4 separate regions of the Homo sapiens genome follow, and all the other regions are reported to be linked to region 4. The links are microRNA targets in miRTarBase. Many come from high-throughput screens and were not tested one by one. Region 4 holds a microRNA gene; each other region holds the end of a gene's coding sequence.
Evidence for each region. Region 4 holds the annotated microRNA hsa-miR-455-5p (UAUGUGCCUUUGGACUACAUCG, at 2,262-2,283, opposite strand). A microRNA usually pairs through its seed, bases 2 to 8, with sites in the 3' UTR of a target mRNA and lowers its output. Matches are read on the target gene's strand: a 7mer-m8 pairs with bases 2 to 8, a 7mer-A1 pairs with bases 2 to 7 and ends in A, and an 8mer does both.

Region 1: miRTarBase lists FKBP9 as a target of hsa-miR-455-5p. The part of its 3' UTR that is shown has no 7-base or 8-base seed match.
Region 2: the mRNA of NUP54 is a reported target of hsa-miR-455-5p. Seed matches in the 3' UTR shown: 7mer-A1 at 2,285-2,291.
Region 3: the mRNA of DRG1 is a reported target of hsa-miR-455-5p. The part of its 3' UTR that is shown has no 7-base or 8-base seed match.

What each region holds. Positions count from the first base shown.
Region 1 is chr7:33,004,955-33,008,062 of GRCh38, reverse strand. FKBP9 (FKBP prolyl isomerase 9) reads right to left here. Exons shown (of 10, transcript NM_007270.5): 10 at 1,135-2,888. The coding sequence ends at 2,712. Among named protein-coding and RNA genes, the nearest start is that of FKBP9, 49 kb to the right of the region's middle.
Region 2 is chr4:76,112,698-76,115,805 of GRCh38, forward strand. It overlaps NUP54 (nucleoporin 54), which reads right to left. Exons shown (of 12, transcript NM_017426.4): 12 at 1,967-2,797. The coding sequence ends at 2,669. It overlaps ART3 (ADP-ribosyltransferase 3 (inactive)), which reads left to right. Exons shown (of 12, transcript NM_001130016.3): 12 at 1-89. Among named protein-coding and RNA genes, the nearest start is that of NUP54, 34 kb to the right of the region's middle.
Region 3 is chr22:31,433,294-31,436,395 of GRCh38, reverse strand. DRG1 (developmentally regulated GTP binding protein 1) reads right to left here. Exons shown (of 9, transcript NM_004147.4): 9 at 1,944-2,524. The coding sequence ends at 2,425. Among named protein-coding and RNA genes, the nearest start is that of DRG1, 35 kb to the right of the region's middle.
Region 4 is chr9:114,208,624-114,211,731 of GRCh38, reverse strand. MIR455 (microRNA 455) reads right to left here and starts at 2,298; the gene lies at 2,203-2,298. COL27A1 (collagen type XXVII alpha 1 chain) reads right to left here. Exons shown (of 61, transcript NM_032888.4): 11 at 2,004-2,057; 12 at 706-750.

The DNA.
Region 1 (3,108 bases), not on the chromosome of region 4:
GATAAGCACAAGGTTTTTCTTTTCATAAGGCGGGTAAGGCTAATGAAGTCAAATGCATTCCAAAGCCCAATTCAACTTAGCAAGAAGCAAAAAAAAAAAAAATTTTTTTTTTTGAGACATAGTCTTGCTCTGTCTCCCAGGCTGGAGTGCAGTGGTGCCATCTCAGCTTACTGCAGCCTCCGCCTCCTGGGTTCAAGCAATTTTCCTGCCTCAGCCTCCTGAGCAGCTGGGATTACAGGCGCCCATCACCATGCCCGGCTAATTTTTTTTTTGTATTTTTAGTATAGAAGAGTTTTCACCATGTTGGCCAGGCTGGTCTTGAACTCCTGAACCTCAAATGATCCACCCATCTCAGCCTCCCAAACTGCTGGGATTACAGACATGAGCCACTGCACATGGCCAACATTTGCTTTTTAACAGCAACTTTATGTATATATAATACATATATTTTATGTTTATTAATATATATTAAAATAATTGCTTTTAAATATATAATTGCACCACACACACACACAGTTTCTCTATACATGTGCCAGTAATTCTCCATTTGCTCCCACCCACCCCATCCCTACCTCAGATTCATTCTCCACCTTTCTCTGCACTCAAGAGGCTGACTTCTGAGAACTCCAGTCTCTGAGCTCCTCTTACCCTCTGGCTTCCAACATGGTTCCACTAATGGGAGCCAGTGGCAGGCATCAGAGAATGGGGGCACAGAGGGGATGGGGCGTTTGTCCCTCGCTCTGCTGCAGTGTCAGCCGCACTGTCAGATGCAGCTGGCTGCATCCCTCTGTTACGCCTCCAGGTAGCCCTTCCTGTGCTGCTCCCACTGCCTCCTCTTGAGCTCTCAGGCCCTGGTGGTAGCAGCCTCCTGCGGTGGCCAACACTGCTGTCACTGGCACTCAACAGCCTCAGTTCCCCCAGCCTCGCCCACACCCCTCTAAACAGTCCTTTCCTTAGCTTCTCTTCAGGAGTCCCAGAGGAGGGCCAGGACCCTGACTGACACTCCCTATAAGTAGAGTGCGCTCCCTCAGTAAATGCAGTGAAGTCCTGCTGTTTTCATCAAGGGGATTCTGACTGCATGGTGCATTCTCATAGGTCTTCAGCCTTCCAATAAAATATCAGAAAACCAGATAATATCATTCAACATTTTATATCAGAAAAGATCAGCTTTCCAACATTTATTCCATGGAATGAGTGCACAGCATTTTCATGAACTACCTCAGGGCTACATCAGTACAAAATAGTTTAAATTAGTAAAATAAAGTAGTTTCAAAGGGAAATCATTGACGACTTCAGGATAAGTGCCACCACCATTTGGGAACAGAGGATAGAAGGTAGCCATGTGGTTATTCCATGATGCAGGAATCAGGTCGGCAGGTGGACTGTCATTGCTGTCTTGCGGCAGCTGGCCTCTGCCTTCAGGGTACCACCGTCTCCAGGACACAAATGGGCAGCAGAAAAATGTCACCTTGTTGATGCTCAGCAGCTCATCTATTGGGACAAAACTTCCATCTCGGCCAAGGGAAATACTCTGTTGAGTGACCAGCGGGGCCCAGCCCCCAGCCCTATTTATCTCATCAATATGGTTCAGGGAAGATAAAAAAGAGTGTTCTATGGGATAGAAAGGTGGGAATAAGAAAAAACTAAGTGGCTGGGCATGGTGAGTCACGCCTGTAATCCCAACACTTTGGGAGGCCAAGGTGGGCGGATCACGAGGTCGAGATTGAGACCATCCTGGCCAACACAGTGAAACCCCGTCTCTACTAAAAATACAAAAATTAGCCGGGCGTGGTGGTGCACACCTGTAGTCCCAGCTACTCAGGAGGCTGAGACAGGAGAATCGCTTGAATACGGGAGGCGGAGGCTGCAGTGAGCCGAGACAGTGCTGCAGTGAGCCGAGATGGCACCACTGCACTCCAGCCTGGCGACAAAGGGAGACTCTGCCTCCAGAAAAAAAAAAAAAAAAAAAAAGGAAAGGAAAAGCTAAGCAGATGACTTATGTGGCAAATGAGGAATCAAATTCTCTATTTGTGGTCTGAGATGCCTTTTCCTGGCCCAGTTTTCTGTCCAAAAGGCTCTTTTAACCTCCAAGTTATACACTATTAATGGTAGGCCCATAGTGGGGCGGGGTGTGATGAGCTGGAAAAGCATGATGTGCGTGTGCGTGTGCGGGGGTGGGGCCATCATCAGAATTTGCACAGGCTGCTGGGAAGAGCCATGGCTGTCTGCTGGGAACTCTGCTGGGGCAAGCAAGCCCTTTGACTCTCCTGCCCATCTCTAGAATATTTCTAAAATGTTTTAACCAGCAAGTTAAAAAAAAATTTAACCCTCTTTATATAGATACCCTGGACACCTTTTCTTATGGTTCCTCCAAGATGATTATAACTTCCGTCTGACACTATATATTCCTTTAATAACAAAATTTCCCAGAAGGCTCACAAATCATGGTTGGCAGTGCAGCCTTTTCAATACTGGACACATCCCATGCTAAGGCCCTCTGCACAGATTTTGTTTACTATCACTGGCGATCAGCCCAAACTTCTCACCCCATATATCAACCCACCCCGATGTGTACACCAGGTACTATGTGACCCACCTACTACTGGCTAATGATGCAACTTCTGAGAGACCCTTGCACCCTCACTGCACGTCTTGCCACACAGGTGGCTTGGTGTCACGTACTCCCTGGCACCATCTGGTTCATGCCAGGTTTAGAGTTCATCGTGTTTGGCTTCCTGGTCTTTGAGTTTAAATTCCTCGGCTGTGACCTTCCCATCTCCATTCCGGTCCTGGTTGGTGAACATATTCTTCACAATCAGCTCAGCATCAAAGCCAGGAGCGAGTTTCCCTTTGCCAGATGCCACCTGGGCGTGAATGTACTCTGAGAACTGGAAAAGAAGGGGACAGGAAAGACCATGAGTTCAGCCGCCATGAACGCCAGGCCTGGGGCCAGAAACAGAGCAGTCTGGGGGTGACAGGGCTGGAACTTGAGTCTGGGCTACCAACACAGACAAGATCTTTTTGGCAGCTATATGACCTATGATCTGTGTTTTGTTTTTTTTCTCTAAATGCAGGTGAAAAACCCTTGTGCTAAATGACTCCAAGAGC
Region 2 (3,108 bases), not on the chromosome of region 4:
ACTTTTCACTTGTATACTACTCTTACAATGGAAAAAAATCCCGAAAACTGTATACTTCTGATTAAATTCAATAAAAGATTTTGATTAGATATTTCAGAATTGCCAGTATGCTCAATACTGTTAGTGTTTAACATCAATTTAATATCTGAATTAGAACTTTAAGGATAGTCTACTCATCTCTTTGTCTTAGTCTGTTTGGGTTGCTGTAACAGACCACTGTAGACTAGGTAACTTGTAAGCAACATTTATTTATTTCTCACAGTTCCAGAGGCTGGGAAGTCCAAGATCAAGGTGCCAGCAGACTTAGTTTCTGGTGAGTGTCCTCTTCCTTGTCCTTTCCTCACCATCTCACATGGCAGAAGGGACAAGAGAGATAGAGCACTAATCCCATTCATGAAGGCTCCACCCTCATCATGACCTCCCAAAAGCCATACCTCCTAAAATCACCATATTGAGTGTTAGGATTTCAAGATGAATTTTTTGAGAACACAAACTACTCAGTCTATAACACTTGCTTCGATAACTGAGTCTAGTTATCTCACCAGTTATATGCTCAAGGACCACAGGCCTGCCTTATATATGCAGTCACCAGTGGGACAGAAACCCAACAGGATGACTGGGCCTGCCTTTTTAAAAGGCTGACCTTAGGCCCTGTCTGGTATATTTATCTGGTTGAACTAGCAACCAGCAATATTAGAACATGAAAAATCAAAGGCTAGAGAAGCGACCATGGTATGCATGATGAGTGATCCATCCACTAGATTATATAGCTCAGTGAGTAACAATTCTCATCAATTAGACCAACAACTCTTCCTACTATAAGGGGGTGTGCAGAGGGACAAAAACTCCTATACTTGGCTACATGGGTAAGAATGATGGACATGCAGATCTTCTGGGCCACGGAGAAAATGTGGACAAGGCAAGAAATTCCTGTCCCAACACTGTTGGTATTGCAATATAATGGGTAGGAAAGAATGATGAGAGGGTAGTAGAGTAGTGTAACAAATTTACACACCATAAACTTGGCAAAAGTAGCTGCATACTTCTGGCAGTCAATTTGGAAAGAAACAATCAGTTTTAAAGTTCCTAGTCTTGGCCAGGCATGGAGGTTCAGGCCTGTAATCCTAGCACTTTGGCAGGCCAAGGTAGGAGGATTGCTGGAGTCTAGGAGTTCAAGACCAGCCTGGGCAACATAACAAGACCCCATCTCTACACAAAATAAAAAATAATAGCCAGTTGTGGTGGTGCATGCCTGTAGTCCCAGCTACTCAAGAGTCTGAGGTGGGAGGACTGCTTAAACCCAGGAGGTCAAGGCTGCAGTGAGTCGTGATTGTGCCACTGTACCCCAGCCTGGGTGACAGAGAGACTTGTCTCAAAAAAAAAAAAAAAAAAAAAAACCCACAAAAAATCCTAGTCTACACAACTGTAACCTATACAACTGAGGAGAAATCTCTTCAGTGGATTCTCAGAGGATGGACTCCAGATAGATATACAGTGCATCACACTCTTCACCATCCCCATAGTAAATACAATAGCAAGATTCATGGGCCTGTTTCTTCTAACACCTGTCAATACAAGCCAAAGCATCACAGAGAAGTGCAAAGTTAAAGCATCTCAAAAGCGGCCAACATGATGCAGCCCAAATATAGTGTAGTCAGAAATACTGTTTAAAATGATCCACTGGTTAAAGACCCACTATTTAACACTACTTAATCTGTTTAACTCAGATTTTCTAGTATTTCGAATACTAATGACATATTAGGGAATTCTTAATACTAGATGATATCTGAAGTAAGTTTTACTTGCCATACCCTAATCAAAATATAACAGCACTGACAAAAATCCCTAGGAGGCAAAAATAAGACTTAAGACTAAAATTCCTGACTTGTGATTATGAATTTAGTACCTATGTGGACAAAAAATGGTCATTCCTCAAAAGCCAAATAAAGCACCAGACAGAATTATATAAAAGTAATTACAAATTAAGAATTTATTTATAAGTTTTCATCTTTTTAGAAATAAAAAGGCTTAAAAAACAAAATGGTTGCAAAAATGGTTAAGTAGTTTTGTTATATCCTAATTGCTTAGGTGTGCTCTGTAAATTCCAAATAAGTAAAATAATATAAAAATACATTTTCATATCTTTATAGAACAAAAACAAAACATTAAATGCTTTTGGATTTTCTTTACTCCTCCCACAGATGAGTTCACAAATACAAAAACTGGTGTACATTTATACTCAAGTACAAATCTCCAACAGCCAAGTAATTATAGTTTGTTCTGTTATGTGCAAAGTAGATTATTTCATATTTACTTGGTATGGAAAGCAGAGTACAGGCTCAATGGACAATAATCATTAAACACAGATTATGTTTAAGAAAATGCTGTTGTAAAAATGTACAATAGTACATACAATTTTGGTAATTATGCACTTCTTTTAAAGTAAATACAGCTTTTAGATATAAATCTTTCAAAGGTTTTCTTTGAAGAGCTGTGAGGTGACTATTTCAGATTTGATGAACAGTAATTTGTCAGTAAACTTCTCAAAAAACCAATCCAAGAAAGAATTGTTTTCTTTTTCCCTCCATGTGGTCGGTTTCATTCTTAAGGAAGGTCTGATGCAGTAAGAAGATGCATTTCACAAACCTTTACACAAGTTTGTGAACTGTCAACTAAAGACACCACCTCTGATGTGGATGGTTTCATTCAATCCATGTTCGACCAGCTTTATATCTTCTAGATCGTCTTTAATGATGCTAATCAAATGGCTAAGGCCTTCCTGTTGTTGTTTCAAATGCTAGAACAAATTAAGAAACAACATATTAATGTATTAATTTCTTAAAACTGCAAGCTAGTCACAGGAAAAAAGACTCCACTTTGACTATTTTACTAGCAACACAGTACCTAGTAAGTGCTCTAAATATAGAGGGCATGCATATTTAAACATTTGTACTACATCTTTTGCTAACAGTGAAAGACAAACTCTAAAGAACAATAAAATCAAACAAATATATAATGAACAATATCTTCCAACAAAAATGTTTTTTAGATAGCTATTCCTTTTACCAACTTTTGATAAAGGCATGATAATAAAACAGAACTCAAAGG
Region 3 (3,102 bases), not on the chromosome of region 4:
ATGAACTGGATTTCAGCAACCTTCTCTCCCCAACATTCTGGCAGTGCTAAATGCTTGCTCAATGAAAGTGAATTTTGGCAAGAAGAGTCCCCAGAAACCCAATATGTTCTGGCTGGAGAACAAACCTTCCTGGAAATCCCGTAGCTCAGAAAGCCAATGTTTCCCTGTTCCCCTGCAGGGTTGGGGCAGGCTCTAGACCACGGCCTCTATCATGAATGCACCAGTGGTATCAAGGCCGATATTCTGAAAAGTAACTAGCATACCAGGCTTCAGGAGCTTACCTTCCAGGTCTGGGGACAGTGACAAGCCCAAGCTCCAGGAAGACTATCAAAGGGAAACAACTGCTATTAGGGCAGCAGGAGAAACAAGCACTGGAGAGAGGCTGAGTATGTGAATAATCCCACACTGTGATCACTCATGACCTGCTAAAAGCTCTGGCTTGCCTCATTTGAAGAAATAATCAAATTCTGTCTTGCTGCAAACCTATTCTTCCTGATTTTCTCAGGGACTACTCCATCCATACTGAAATAATGTTTGACTTCTTCCCAAGAGCAAGTTAGTTAACAAGTTTAAGATTTCTCCCCCATACTTACATGTCCATACCCTCCCTTCTGCCCATATTCTTTAATTATTTAATTTTTATTTCTTGGAGACAGGGTCTCACTCTGTCACCCAGGCTGGAGTGCAGTGGCCCATCTTAGCTCACTGCAGCCTGGACCTCCCAGGCTCAAGCAGTCCTCACCTCAGCCTCCCGAACAGCTGGGACTGCAGGCATGCACCACCATGCCCACCTAATTTTTTAAATTTTTTTGTAGAGATTGGGCCTCGCTATGTTGTCCAGGCTGGTCTCGAACTCCTGAGCTCAGGCGATCTTCCTGCCTTGACCTCCCAAAGTGCTGGGATTACAGGTGTGAGCTACTGGGCCCAGCCCCCTCCGTCCATATTGTTACCCACCACACCAAGATTTTCATCAACCAGTTTCACATAATCAGAGCAATCCCCTTAAATTCCTATATTCCTAGTCCCCCAAATATCTGATTATGTCCTTAGCATCCTCTCAAGTAGTCCTGACACCAAGCCTCCTCCTAAACCGCCCACCTCCATATATACACATATGTGAACACACAAACCTGCTTTGATCACACCAGTTGCCTCACTTGCAATGCACCTTCGCCCAAGTTATTGGCTGAAGCCAGGACTTTCATGGGGATTCAAGCAGAAAGTCTGGGTTATGGGAAAGAAGGCATTTAGTTGGCCGGGCACGGTGGCTCACACCTGTAATCCCAGCACTCTGGGAGGCTGAGGCAGGCGGATCACCTGAGGTCAGGAATTCAAGACCAGCCTGACCAACATGGAGAAACCCCATCTCTACTAAAAATACAAAATTAGCGGGGCATGGTGGTACCTGCCTGTAATCCCAGCTAATCAGGAGGCTGACACAGGAGAATCGCTTGAACCCGGGAGGCGGAGGTTGCGGTGAGCCGAGATCATGCCATTGCACTCCAGCCTGGGCAGCAAGAGCGAAACTCCATCTCAAAAAAAAAAAAAGAAAAAGAAAAAGAAAAAAGCATTTTAGTGGCCCAGGTGGCAACATAGTTCAGCTCAACATTCAACCCAACACTGATGATGTACAGCTGTGCTCTGCATAGGGCAGACAGCCCAGTAAAAGGCTCGGTGCAACAAAAGCCAAGAGTCATTGAGTACTTACAAATTGCTTAGCACAGTATTTGACATATAAGTACCATCTCCCTCCATTACTAACAATCACCACCGCAGAAAGTAAGTGCTATTACTATCCCCATGTTACATGAGGAAACTGAGGCTCATAAAGGTTGGGTAATTTGTTCAGGGCTCCACAGCTAACTAGAGGTGGACCTGCAATTTCAAACCCTGATCTGCCTGGTCGGAGTACTTAATTACATGATCTCCCAAAATAGGTTAGCCTTGCGGGGAGTGATCAATTAACTTACATAAAGTCCTTCCTCTCTCCAGTATCATGTGGGAAAGACTACTTGAAAGGACTGAAAGCCATATCTAGTTTGGAAGGGGTTCCCATAAGTAAACATCAAGTAAGATGCAGCATGTCATATTTTTATCCATTTCACACTCAAGATGAAGTTCCCAAGGATCCCTTCTGTAGCTGCTTCACCGTATATACCCTTCCTCATTCAGCCCATCCCAAAACAAATTCTGACAATGACACATGAGCTGCATGTAGCTGACCAGCCTACCAGATCTTTTATGCAGTTCGACATACAAGGTGACACCAAGGTAAGACAAATGAAGTTCCAGTTTGGGTGCCTCCATCTCCCTCCCCTGGATCCTGATCCAGTGACTGCCAAAACCAGAAAGAACTGGGGTAGGGTGCTTGATCATGGGGAACGCTGTTGTGGTTCGTCCGGCAGATGGGAAAAGGGAAAGGTTTCACTTCTTCACAATTTGAATGACATCCTCATCCTCCAACGTATGGTCTTTACCCACTTTCTGAGGATTGTGTTTCACAGAGAGACCCCAGACCAGAGCACTGCATGGAAGGGAAAAAGAACAGTCAGTGTAAATAATAACCTAGCTTCTGCCCTATTTGCCTGGATGCCACCCTTCTGCTCAGATTTAGTATCATACCCTTAAGAACCATAGACCTACAAAAGCTTTATCTTCCCTAGCAGCATGAGACACTGAAGCCTTAACATAAAAGCCGGTAAAGACTTCTGGAAGTTGTGTGGTTCCTCTTATTGCAGAAAGTCAAAGACAAAAAACATGTTTAGTATAAAGAGCCTAGTTTAAAATTAAAAGAAAGCATGGATTTGTTATAGAGAAATACTCTGGGCCGGGCGCAGGGGCTCATGCCTGTAATCCCACCACTTTGGGAGGCCGAAGGGTGCGGATCACCTGAGATCAGGCGTTCAAGAAAAGCCTGGCCAACATGGTGAAACCCCGTCTCCACTAAAAATACAAAAATTAGCTGGGCATGGTGGCGGGTGCCTGTAATCCCAACTACTCGGGAGGCTGAGGCAGAAGAATGGCTTGAACCCGGGAGGCGGAGGTTGCAGTGAGCCAAGATCATGCCGTTGCACTCCAGGTTGGGCAACGAGCGAAACTCCG
Region 4 (3,108 bases):
TGCCTCAAGCAGCCACTGAGATCAAAGACACCGGGAACAAACCAACTGAGTTCCAATCCTGGCTGCATTGTTTACTCATCGTGCAAGTGACTTAATCTCTCCGTGCCTTGGCTCTTTCTCCATGTTCTGCACATGTCCAAACAAAGGGAAAAACAATTTCCTCCCATGATGGGGAGCCATAGAGAAAGCTGGTGAATTGGGGGTCACCGCTGAGCCCCTCTTTCGGTCATGCCTGCTGTGGGCACTGCCCATAAACCCCATTGTCCTCTGGCTTTGCGTGTGCATGAGCAAACTGGACAGAGCCGGATGACACCAAGACGATGTGGAGACTGAGTGTTCCCTGAGATGGGAGCAGAGTCACCTGGTCTAGCCAAGGTCCCCCGGTCACAGCAGACCCACAGACACAAATACCTTAGACAGAAGCCCCCAGACACAGAACTGCACTGGAGAGCCACTGATGCCCACAGGGAGACAGGAGCTACCCCAGAGGGGTCCAGAGCCCATGGAAGCCCCAGCCCCAGCCAGGCCCCAGTCACGCCGTGTGCCAGCAGCAGGTCCTGTGGCCAGACAACCCCACATGCGGCCCCCACACTCAAAGCAGGGGGAGAAGCAGAAGATGCCAGGCAGCAGGTGGCCAGGGCAGCGTGGCCGTGGGAGGTGGGGTTCCCCGCTAGAGTCTGCGTAATAGACACGGAAAATCTTTACCGGCATACCCATCTTGCCCCTCTTGCCAGGAACGCCAGGCAGGCCCTGCAGGGGAGAGACAGGGGAGAGGTCAGGGCAGGATGCCAGCAGGGACAGCCAGGCTTGCCCCAAACCAGCCCAGAGCCACCCACGGCAGGAAGTCACAGAGGGCCTGGAATGTGTGCCACTTGCGTGGCGGCCCCAGTGACATGCACATCAGACGGATGGCAGGGTCGGGGTCTGTGGTGACCTAAGAGACAGAGAAATGCCAGTTCCTGTAATCAGCAGGTGCTTCATAAATGCTCAGGCTCCAGCTGTCCTAAGGTTCTCTATACCCAGCTTATGGAGGTTACAAGTGAGTTCCCATAGATACGGGCTCAGGTTGGGAGGGGGCGGGGAGGAAGATCCCGAGGCCACCACCCCAGGGGCTTCTAATGGACCTCCAGGCTGGGCCAGGGGTCTGTGAGAAGCTCCCACACCATCTTTTGGACTCCTCTGACTTAGATACTTGGTCTGGAAGGACAGGGTGTCTTAGGAAATCTTAGCACCCACTGCCCACCACCAAACCAGTCCCACCACCTTCCCCAGACAGCCGCTCCCCCTGGCTGCTGGAACTCCTGCCACCTGCTCTTGCTGTCCCCACCCCCAACCAACACATTTTACTCAAGTAAACCAACTGATCTGTCTAAAAGAGGAATCAGCAGATGGTTTCTGGAAAGGGGCAGATAGTGAATATCTTTGGCTCTGTGGGCCATACGGTCTCTGTCACACCTACTCAACTCTGCCATTGTAGTGAGAAAGCGGCATTGACAATATGTAACCAAATGAGCAAGGCTGAGTTCAATAAAACTGTTTGCAAAAACAGACAACTGGCTGGATTTGGCCCATGGGCCACCGTTTGCAGACCCCTGATCTATATTATAAAGTGGGCCCGGTGTTCATTGGTTGCAAGTCCTCAAGAGGCTCCGCATACCCTCAGAACAGAGTTCCTTTTCTAACCTTAGTCCTGGGCACCTAAGACATTGCCCCAGGGTCCTCTCCAGCCTCAACTCCCACCACTCTCACCCTCTCACGCAGCACTTTGGCAGTGTTGAGTGTTAAACTCGCCAAGTTACCGTAAATCCCTGACTTCGCACATGCTGTTCCCTATGCCTGGAATGCATCTGCCTTGACTTGTCCCCTTATCAGACTCCTACTCGACTCAAGTGCACCTCCTCCAGGAGGAATTCCTTGACTTCCCCAGGCTGGTGCCTGGCAGGTTCTGCTCTGTTTGGGCAGGGGTGGCTGTGGATGGTGAATAACCAAAGAAGCAAACTTACTCGTTCTCCATCAGACCCTGGCAGGCCGAAGAGCCCTGGGAGCCCAATGTAGCCCTAGGAAAGAGAAGAAAGGGGGTCAGAGCGGTCAAGCAGTGAGGTGTGGCTGGCCCAACCTGCCGCAGCCCACCCACCACTGCCATCCCACATCCCGGCTCCTCCTCTTCCTCCCTGGTGGCAGTGGCAGCTCCGGTGGCTCCTCGATGACATAGGCCTTGAGGCAAGTGTATATGCCCATGGACTGCATGGTGCTGGCTTCCACGATGTAGTCCAAAGGCACATACCCTCACGCCAGGGAAGGGCGCAGGCGCTCGCCGGCAGGAGGCCCGCCCCACGCCAGGGCTCCAGGACCTGCAGAAGGAAGCTCGCGGCTGGGTTAGATGCTAGCACGGCACCAAGCCCTGCCCACCCCCAGGGATGCTGGTAGGTGCCCGTGGCTCCTGCCATGGCTCCTCCTAGGCCTTCAAGGTCCTGGATGTAGGGCTTACATCCACCTCTGGCCGCCTGAGTGCTGGCATTAACTAACAGCGGCTGCGAACCCGGAGTGCCAACATTGTGCCAGGCACATGCATGCTACCACATTAGACTCTCACAAGGACCCCCCAGATTGTCACCACCCACACTGGACAGACAAAGAAACTGAGGCTCTGTAGATAAAGCAACACGACTAGTCAGTAGTGGAGCTGTGAATTCTCTTCGGGAATTCCTAATCAGTTCAAGGGTCACCCAGGGCCAGCTGACTCCACAGCTGGGGCTCGTCACCATTCTGGGGCTCTTCCCTAGGATGCATCTCATTTCCTCCCTCCCAGCCTTTCCTCACTCTGTCCCCTCCACCAGGCATGTCCTTCCCATCCCTCATGACTTCTGAGCCAAATCCTTCAAAGCCCAGCTCTCATAAGCGCTCTCCTTGGGCAAGCATCCCTGATACCCCAAGCCGGAAGCAATCTCTCCCCCCCATCCCCAGTGCCATTTTTGCACCTCGGTAGCATCCTTCTCCACTTTCTCCCTTGTATCTTCATTATTTGTGTTCATGCTTCACGTCCTCATTAGCCTGGGAACTTCTAAAGGGCAGTAACCTCGCCCGGGGCTTCTACCACTATCTGCGTGC